2 linked regions of the Homo sapiens genome follow. The protein of the gene in region 2 purifies or fractionates together with the protein of the main gene of each other region. This does not show direct contact. Each region holds a gene or a part of one and is shown on either strand. Other genes may lie near its edges.

What was found. The genes of interacting proteins can lie anywhere in the genome.
Region 1: the proteins of CFAP36 (region 2) and KCTD10 purify together in Homo sapiens (affinity purification with mass spectrometry; 2 studies listed by BioGRID and IntAct, with this or other methods). This does not show direct contact.

What each region holds. Positions count from the first base shown.
Region 1 is NC_000012.12:109,456,698-109,460,449, forward strand, and holds part of KCTD10 (BTB/POZ domain-containing adapter for CUL3-mediated RhoA degradation protein 3), read right to left. Parts: intron 1,385-3,752; coding exon of another isoform or gene 1,382-1,384; coding exon 1,295-1,381; intron 986-1,294; coding exon 933-985; intron 1-932. UniProt on the Homo sapiens protein: Substrate-specific adapter of a BCR (BTB-CUL3-RBX1) E3 ubiquitin-protein ligase complex. The BCR(BACURD3) E3 ubiquitin ligase complex mediates the ubiquitination of target proteins, leading to their degradation by the proteasome.
Region 2 is NC_000002.12:55,522,694-55,526,445, reverse strand, and holds part of CFAP36 (cilia- and flagella-associated protein 36), read right to left. Parts: intron 2,726-3,752; coding exon 2,624-2,725; intron 1-2,623. UniProt on the Homo sapiens protein: May act as an effector for ARL3.

The DNA.
Region 1 (3,752 bases), on a different chromosome or scaffold from region 2:
GGTCTTTTTAAAGATCTTGAGTAACCTGATTAAATCCTCCCTGCATCCCTCAAGTTCCTGAGTTAGAGCCACATGTTTTCAAGGGCCAAATGGCATTCTAGAAACCTGCATATATTGCTGGTGGGAATGTAAAATGGTGCAGCCACTTTAGAAAACAGTTTGGCAGGTCCTCGAATGATTAAACATAGAATTACCACATGACCCAGCAATTCTGTTCCCAGAGAAATGAAAACGTAAGTCCACATAGAGACTTTGCATGAATGTTCATAACAGCATTACACACAATAGCCAAAAAGTGCAAACAACCCAAATGTCCATCAACTGATGAATGGGTAAAGAAAATGTGGTCTACACTGTGGAATATTATTCTGCCATAAAAAGGAATGAAGTATTGATTCATGCTACAACATGGATAAACCTTGAAAACCTCTTAGGTAATCTCATTATGCTGAATGAAGGAATCTGGTCACAAAAGGCCATATATTATGCAATTCCATTCACATAAAAATGTCCAGAACAGGCAAATTCATCAAGACAGAAAACAGATTAGTGGTTACCTAGGGCTGTGGGGTTGGGGAAGCAATGGTTGAGGGAAAATGGGGAGTGACTGCTAACGAATAGAGGGTTTCTTTTCAGGCAGTGAAAAAGTTCTAAAATTAGATAGTCGTTATGGCCTCACAACTTGTGAATATATAAAAACCACATATTGTGAATATAATAATAACTGTACACTCTAGAAAGATGACTTTTATGATATGTGTGAATTATAGCTCAGAGTTATACCCCTGTATCCATCTGTCTACTTATCTATCCAGGCAGAGAGGTACAGAGGGGTCATCCTCATCTGAAGGTACGAAGAAGAGCTGGGCCTGGCTGGTGTGAGTGGAGGTTTTCCTAGTAAATGGAGCTGTCTTTCCCGGCTGACGCCTTACCTGGTATATGAGTATTTGTTGTTACTTCTGTTGTAGAGCAACTTCACGGCTGGCTGTGGGTTGTTTTAAAAGAAGAAGAAGAGAGTTACTTGGCAGGCAGATGCAATGAACTACTAGCTTCCCATAGGGCTGGGGCCCTGCCCTGCATCAGAAGAGGCAGACAAGCATAGCTTGCTGGCTGGAGAGGGGGACCACATGACCCAATAGCAGGGGCACAAAAGATGACCTGTAGCTTCCCACTGTGAACCCATTATCAGGCCTCACTCAGGCAATTATACATGTTTTTATTTCAAAAGTTATTCAGAAGAACCTCCATCATTTCTGGTAGCAAAAGAAATTCCACAAGGGTGCCTCCAACATACCTTATTTGAAGTCGCTATAAGTTTTTGTTCTTCCTTGGATGAGGTGATCACAGGGACCTTGCAGAAAGGCTCATAAGTATCTTTGTTCTGCTGGAACAAAACATGCTTTCAGCCTAGGAGGCCTGCCTAGCACTGCATTTTTAAAGTTGACCGGCTGGACAGGCTCTGGCGAGGGGAGATGGGGCAGTCATGGCTGGGAAGAGAGAAGGATTCTCACCACCAGTGAACTAGATGGGGGAAGACAGGGAGTTGAATTTCCCAGTAAGTCTGCTCTTTGGCTATGACCATGATAGGCCAGGATGCTGAGTAAGTACTAACAATGATGACACATTTTCCACAGCCCAGGAAGCCACTCAAAAATAAACCCTTGACGTGGCAGCAGAAACGTGTTTTAATCAAAAGCTCCTAAAACCCCACTACCATGACTGCAGAGGAATTAAAAAAAAAAGCATAAACCCATAAGGGGAAAAAGAATGGGAGAAGTGAGGTCAGCAGACCAGTAAAAAAAGTCAAAAATTTGAGGGTAGAAAGGTCACAGGTGAGCGTTAACCAAGGAGAGGGGGAAAGCTGAAACCAGTGGGCGGAAGCACTGGAAAGATCCCCAAATCCATCTCCGTCCCCATGCAGGCAGAAGAAAGGGCCATCTTCCTGCAGTGGTTTGCACGGTAGAGGACAGGGCTGAGCTGCGATTCTGAAAACGGGGGGACAAGTGAACATCACACTAAGTGATGAGCAACCCCAGCTCCTTCCCCTTCCAGATCCCCAAAGGCAGCCGGCCAGGCCTAGACCCGTCAGGCAGGAGGAGAGTAGAGGATTCCTCTTCAGGAACACCACCTGCTTCCCCCAAAATGGCTTACAGATTCTGACAGTTGGGGGTCCCGCTGAAAAAGTCTGCCTTATCACCCACAATGCAGCCCAGTGGACAACAAGGACCTTCCATGCACAAACAGCTTTCAGAGTCTCTCATTCCTTCAACAGACAGCCAAGCATCATCAGATTACATGTGAAAAGCCTCTTTAACATGAGAACAAAACCAAAACAAAGACAGGAAAAGAGGAGGAGTCAGATAATGAAGGGAGAAGAAAGAAAACAAACAGAATCATCAGACAGTTGAGAGCAGATACGGCCTCCTAGGAAACAAGATGAGCACGCTGTGGAAAGCAGGGCATTCGGACAGCAAGAAAAGGCTCCTGAAGTTAGAAAGACGAAGCAGAAATGAAAATTTTGATAGAAGGGTTGAAAAGGTGAAAAATAAAACTTCTGAGAAAGTAGAACAAAAGGATAAAGCCAGAGACACTAAGAGGAAAGAATTAGGAGGTCAGTCCTGGAGGTCTAACCTTAGACTAACAGAAACGAGACCCAGGGGCATGTCTCCAAGACAAAGATGAAACAGAACCTCTGATGTGTCTGAACACACCACTATGAGACCGCTGAGAACGTGGGGCTGAAGTAGGAACATATATTTAGAAAACCAAGTGAACAAAACAATGAGGCAATCCCTAACTCTGGCAAACTTAAAGTTATAGAAGAAAGAAAATAATCACTGTACACTCTGTGGCTTAACTGTCAGCCGTATTTACACGTCATGACGTAAACTCTGAATTTAACCAAAACTGTGATGAACTGTACTGGGAGAATGGGAGAAGGAAAAGTATGCCTAAGCTTGGTGGGGGTAGAGGTAGGGGCAGTGCGTGAGCTAAATTCTAGTTTCTATAGTCATGCCAGTAGATAATGTCAAAAACTGGGAATTCAATAAAGAGCAGCACAGGCGAATTATGTGGAAACATAAATGTGAACAGAAAAAACTGCTGAAAGAATTCACAGAGGTTACTGCAAGGGTGAAGGAGAGTAGGAGGGGTATGGTGGTGTTTTGATGTTAACCTTGCAGCACTATTTGACTTCTTGAAGGATGCATGTGCATCACTTTCAACAGTGTAGTAATAATAAAAAAGTAAATGCTGCAACATTCAGTTAGGTCTGCAGTGAGTTCAGACTCTCAGAGTAGAGGTGGTGTGCAGCATTATGGGTACTGGTCCGGTGCGGGGCCAGACACAGACATGTGGTGTGGGGGAGGCCCAAACAAGGGCCTCATGCACACAGACCAGATTCCTACGAAAACCCAAAGGGATGCTTCTGATGCTCTGCCACGTTGCAACTTTGTTTGAAATAAAGGGGTGTTGGCCATGTCTAGAAGCATTTTGTTTTTGTGGGATTTTACTGTCACCAGACCTGACTCCAGTGGTCCTGCTCTGTCTAGCTAAGGAGTGAGGGGTGTCTGTCTGTAGAGATTATGCTGAGCTCCCAACAATGACTTGTGGGACTAGAGTAAGCCCTAAGATTGGTCCCGAACACCGACCAAGTTTCACACCGCGGGGTTCTCTGCTGAAGGGTTGAGATGTACACATGAGAAGATCCAACAGCATGGGGCTGCAAGGAGTGACACAGTAGTTAGGTGGCC
Region 2 (3,752 bases):
ACAAACAAAAAAGGTTTTCTATTCCTAGAATTAAAGGTGATCATCAAATGAAAAGTTGTGCAAAAGAGGAAGTGCTGGATTAAAAAGTAGTCAAGGCAACCTCTTCTAGGCCATCATAACAAGACAATTTAAATTAATAAACATTTATTGAGAACTATGTACTAGCAACTAAGTTTTCATCTCTGTTCTACCAGCAGGGAATGCAAATATACTAAACACAGCTCAAAGGACTTACAATTTAGTAGGGCAAATAGACTTGTAGGAAACTATAATTCAAGGCAGAGTAACAAAAATATCAATTTACAATTGGCCTAGTTAAGTAGATTGAATTCTGGTCTGACTTTAGAATAAGCAGCAAAGCTGCTATAACAAGTAGCATTTCAACCAGGCCCTGATAATGAGGATTTCTCCGCATTATGAAAGGAATGATGGAGTGGTCTGGGGAGGGGACCATACATTCCAGGTTAAGGGACAGCATGAGCAAAGGTAGGTGTACAGATGCTTATAAGAGCAAGGGGCAGCAGGGCGTGGTGGCTCACGCCTGTAATCCCAGCACTTTGGGAGGCCGAGGCGGGTGGATCGCCTGAGGTCAGGTGTTCCAGCTTGGCCAACATAGTGAAACCCTGCCTCTACTAAAAATACAAAAACTTAGCCGGGCATGGTGGTGGGAGCCTGTAATCCCAGCTACTTGGGAGGCTGAGGCAGGAGAATCACTTGAACCTAGGAGACGGAGGTTGCAGTGAGCCGAGATTGTGCCATTGCACTCCAGCCTGAGCAACAAGAGCGAAACTCTATCTCAAAAGAAAAAAAAAAGAGAGCAAGTTACCTGGAATGGCAGTAGAACATAATGTATTGGAGAACTATAGCAAGGGATCATGGCTAAAAATACAATCTGGAGTCTCATCTTAAACAATTCTTACCATATCTTGCTAAGAAATTACAGTTTATTTAGTAGAAGATGAGATGCCAAAGCCAATGTTTTGTTTTTTGGGGTTGGGTCCTAATCTGTTGCCCAGGCTGGAGTACAGTGGCATGATCTTGTCTTACTGCAGCTTCAACCTCCTAGGCTCAAGTGATGCTCCTACTTCAGCATCCTGAGTAGGTACTCTGGGGAGAACACCACCACAACCTACAACAAGCTAACTTTTATATTTTTTTTAAAGATGGGGTCTCACTATGTTGTCCAGGCTGGTTTCGAACCCCTGGCTTCAAGCAATCCTCCTGTCTTGGTCTCCCAAAGTGCTGGGATTATAGGCATGAGCCACTTCCTGGCCTTCAGTTTTTGAGCAAAAGGCTACTTGGGTAGTAGCAACATATCCCAATCCTCACCCTCTGAGCAAGGGCACTCAGTTGGCTTGCCTGGGCTGGGGATACTGGCTCTACTACTTATTTAGCTGTGGACTTTGGACTATTTGCTTAATATATCTGTGCTTTGGTTTCCTCATTTCTTTTTTGTTTTTTTTTTTTAGACAGTTTTGTTCTTGTTGCCCAGGCTGGAGTGCAATGGCGCGATCTTGGCTCACCACAACCTCCGCCTCCCGGGTTCAAGGGATTCTCCTGCCTCAGCCTCCCAAGTAGCTGGGATTACAGGCATGTGCCACCATGCCCAGCTAATTTTGTATGTTTAGTAGAGACGGGGTTTCTCCATGTTGGTCAGGCTGGTCTCGAACTCCCGACCTCAGGTGATCTGCCCGCCTCGGCCTCCCAAAGTACTGGGATTACAGGCGTGAGCCACTACTCCGGGCCTGGTTTCCTCATTTCTAAATGGAAGTTATATAGTAGCAGTTTCTTAAGAGGTGTCAGGAAGATTAAATGAGATAAAACATGTCAAGTGCCCAAAATATCAATTAGCACAAGCCCTCAATAAACATTAGTTTACAGGCTGGGCGTGGTGGCTCATGCCTGTAATCCTAGCACTTTGGGAGGCCAAGATGGGCAAATCCCTTGAGCCCAGCATTCAAGACCAGCCTGGACAACACAGCAAGACCCTGTCTCTACAAAAAAAAAAAAAAAAAAAAAAAAATTAGCCATGTGTGCTGGTGCGGCACCTGTAGTCCCAGCTACCAGGAAAGTTGAGATGGGAGGATTACCTGAGCCCAGGGATGTTGAGCCTATAATGAGCTGCAATCACACTAAACTCCAGCCTGAGCAATAGAGTGAGACCCCATATCAAAAAAACAACAAAAACAAACATTAGTTTATAACATATGTATTACTACTTCAGCCTAGCACTACACAACCAGTAAGATAATACAAGTAGTTCCAAGAGAAGGAAGCAGCAGCAGGAACTACTGACTGTGGATCTGCTAAAATTATAAAAGGAGCAACTGCAGAATTATTGGAGATCTATGTAAATAAAACAGTAGTTTGTATAAACCCTGTGATCTTATTCTAGTTCTGAGTTTAGAAAGGTCACTTTGAGTTGCATCAGTTCATTAATGCCTCAAATTATCATTTTTCAGGGTTGCTCTCAAAAAGAACTCATATGTGATGAATTATCTTTCTACCTCTCACAATGTCTAAAATATTACACTTTGTCAATCAAACATTCAAATTTAAGTGAGTGTTTAACCCTGGGCATTTGTTAAAACTGTATGTTAGCAGAATAACACAAAGCAAAAACCTGTGATGTATGGGTCTTTGCAAGAGGAGAAGTGCATGCTTCTTGAAATTGATCTTCATTAATTCCAATTTCTTTGAGGTAACCTTCTAACAGCTTTTCAACCTAAAAAAACAAAGTTTAACTTTTATAATTACATAGAAAAATTCTACATGACAGTTTGCATATTAAGTATTTAGTTTAGAAAAGTATCATCGAATTTTTTGCAAATATTAATCTACATATTACATGACAGTGACATTGTCTTTCACCAAAACACAAATTAAAAGTTAATATTTTTGCTGAAAATCACATGAAATTGTATTTCTTCTAATAGAAATAGTTGAAGTCAGGATTATGAAGTTCAATGTGGTACAACTCTTCTGCTACCCAGAGGCATTTTTTTTTCTTCTTTTCTTTTCTTTCTTTTTTGAGATGGAGTCTCACTCTGTCACCCAGGCTGGAGTGCAGTGGTACGATCTCGGCTCACTGCAACCTCTGCCTCCCAGGCTCAAGCAATTCTCCTGCCTCAGCTTCCTGAGTAGCTGGGACTAGAGGCGCCTGCCACAATGCCCGACTAATTTTTTTTTTTTTTTTTGGTAGAGATGGCGTTGCACCATGTTGGTCAGGCTGGTCTCGAATTCCTGACCTCAGGTGATCCGCCTGCCCTGGCCTCCCAAAGTGCTGGGATTATAGGCATGAGCCACCACGCCTGGCCTTTTCTTTCTTTCTTTCTTTTTTTTTTTTTTGAGACAGAGTCTTACTCTGTTGTCCAGACTGGAGTACAGTGGCACAGTAATGGCTCACTGCAGCCTTGACCTTCTGGGCTCAAGAGATCATCCTCCCACTTCAGCCTCCCAAGCAACTGGGACTACAGGCACATGCCATCATGACTGATTAATTTTTGTAATTTTTATAAAGATGGAGTTTCACCATGTTGCCCAGGCTGGTCTCGAACTCCTTGGCTGAAGCAATCCACCTGCCTTGGCCTCCAAAGTGCTGGGATTATAGGTGTGAGCCACTGAGCCCCACTGCCAGAGGCATTTTTTAAAATCACAAGACAGGCTGGGCAGTGGCTCACACCTGTAAACCCAACACTTTGGGAGGCCCAGGCAGGTGGATCACTTGAGCTCTGGAGTTCCACACCAGCCTG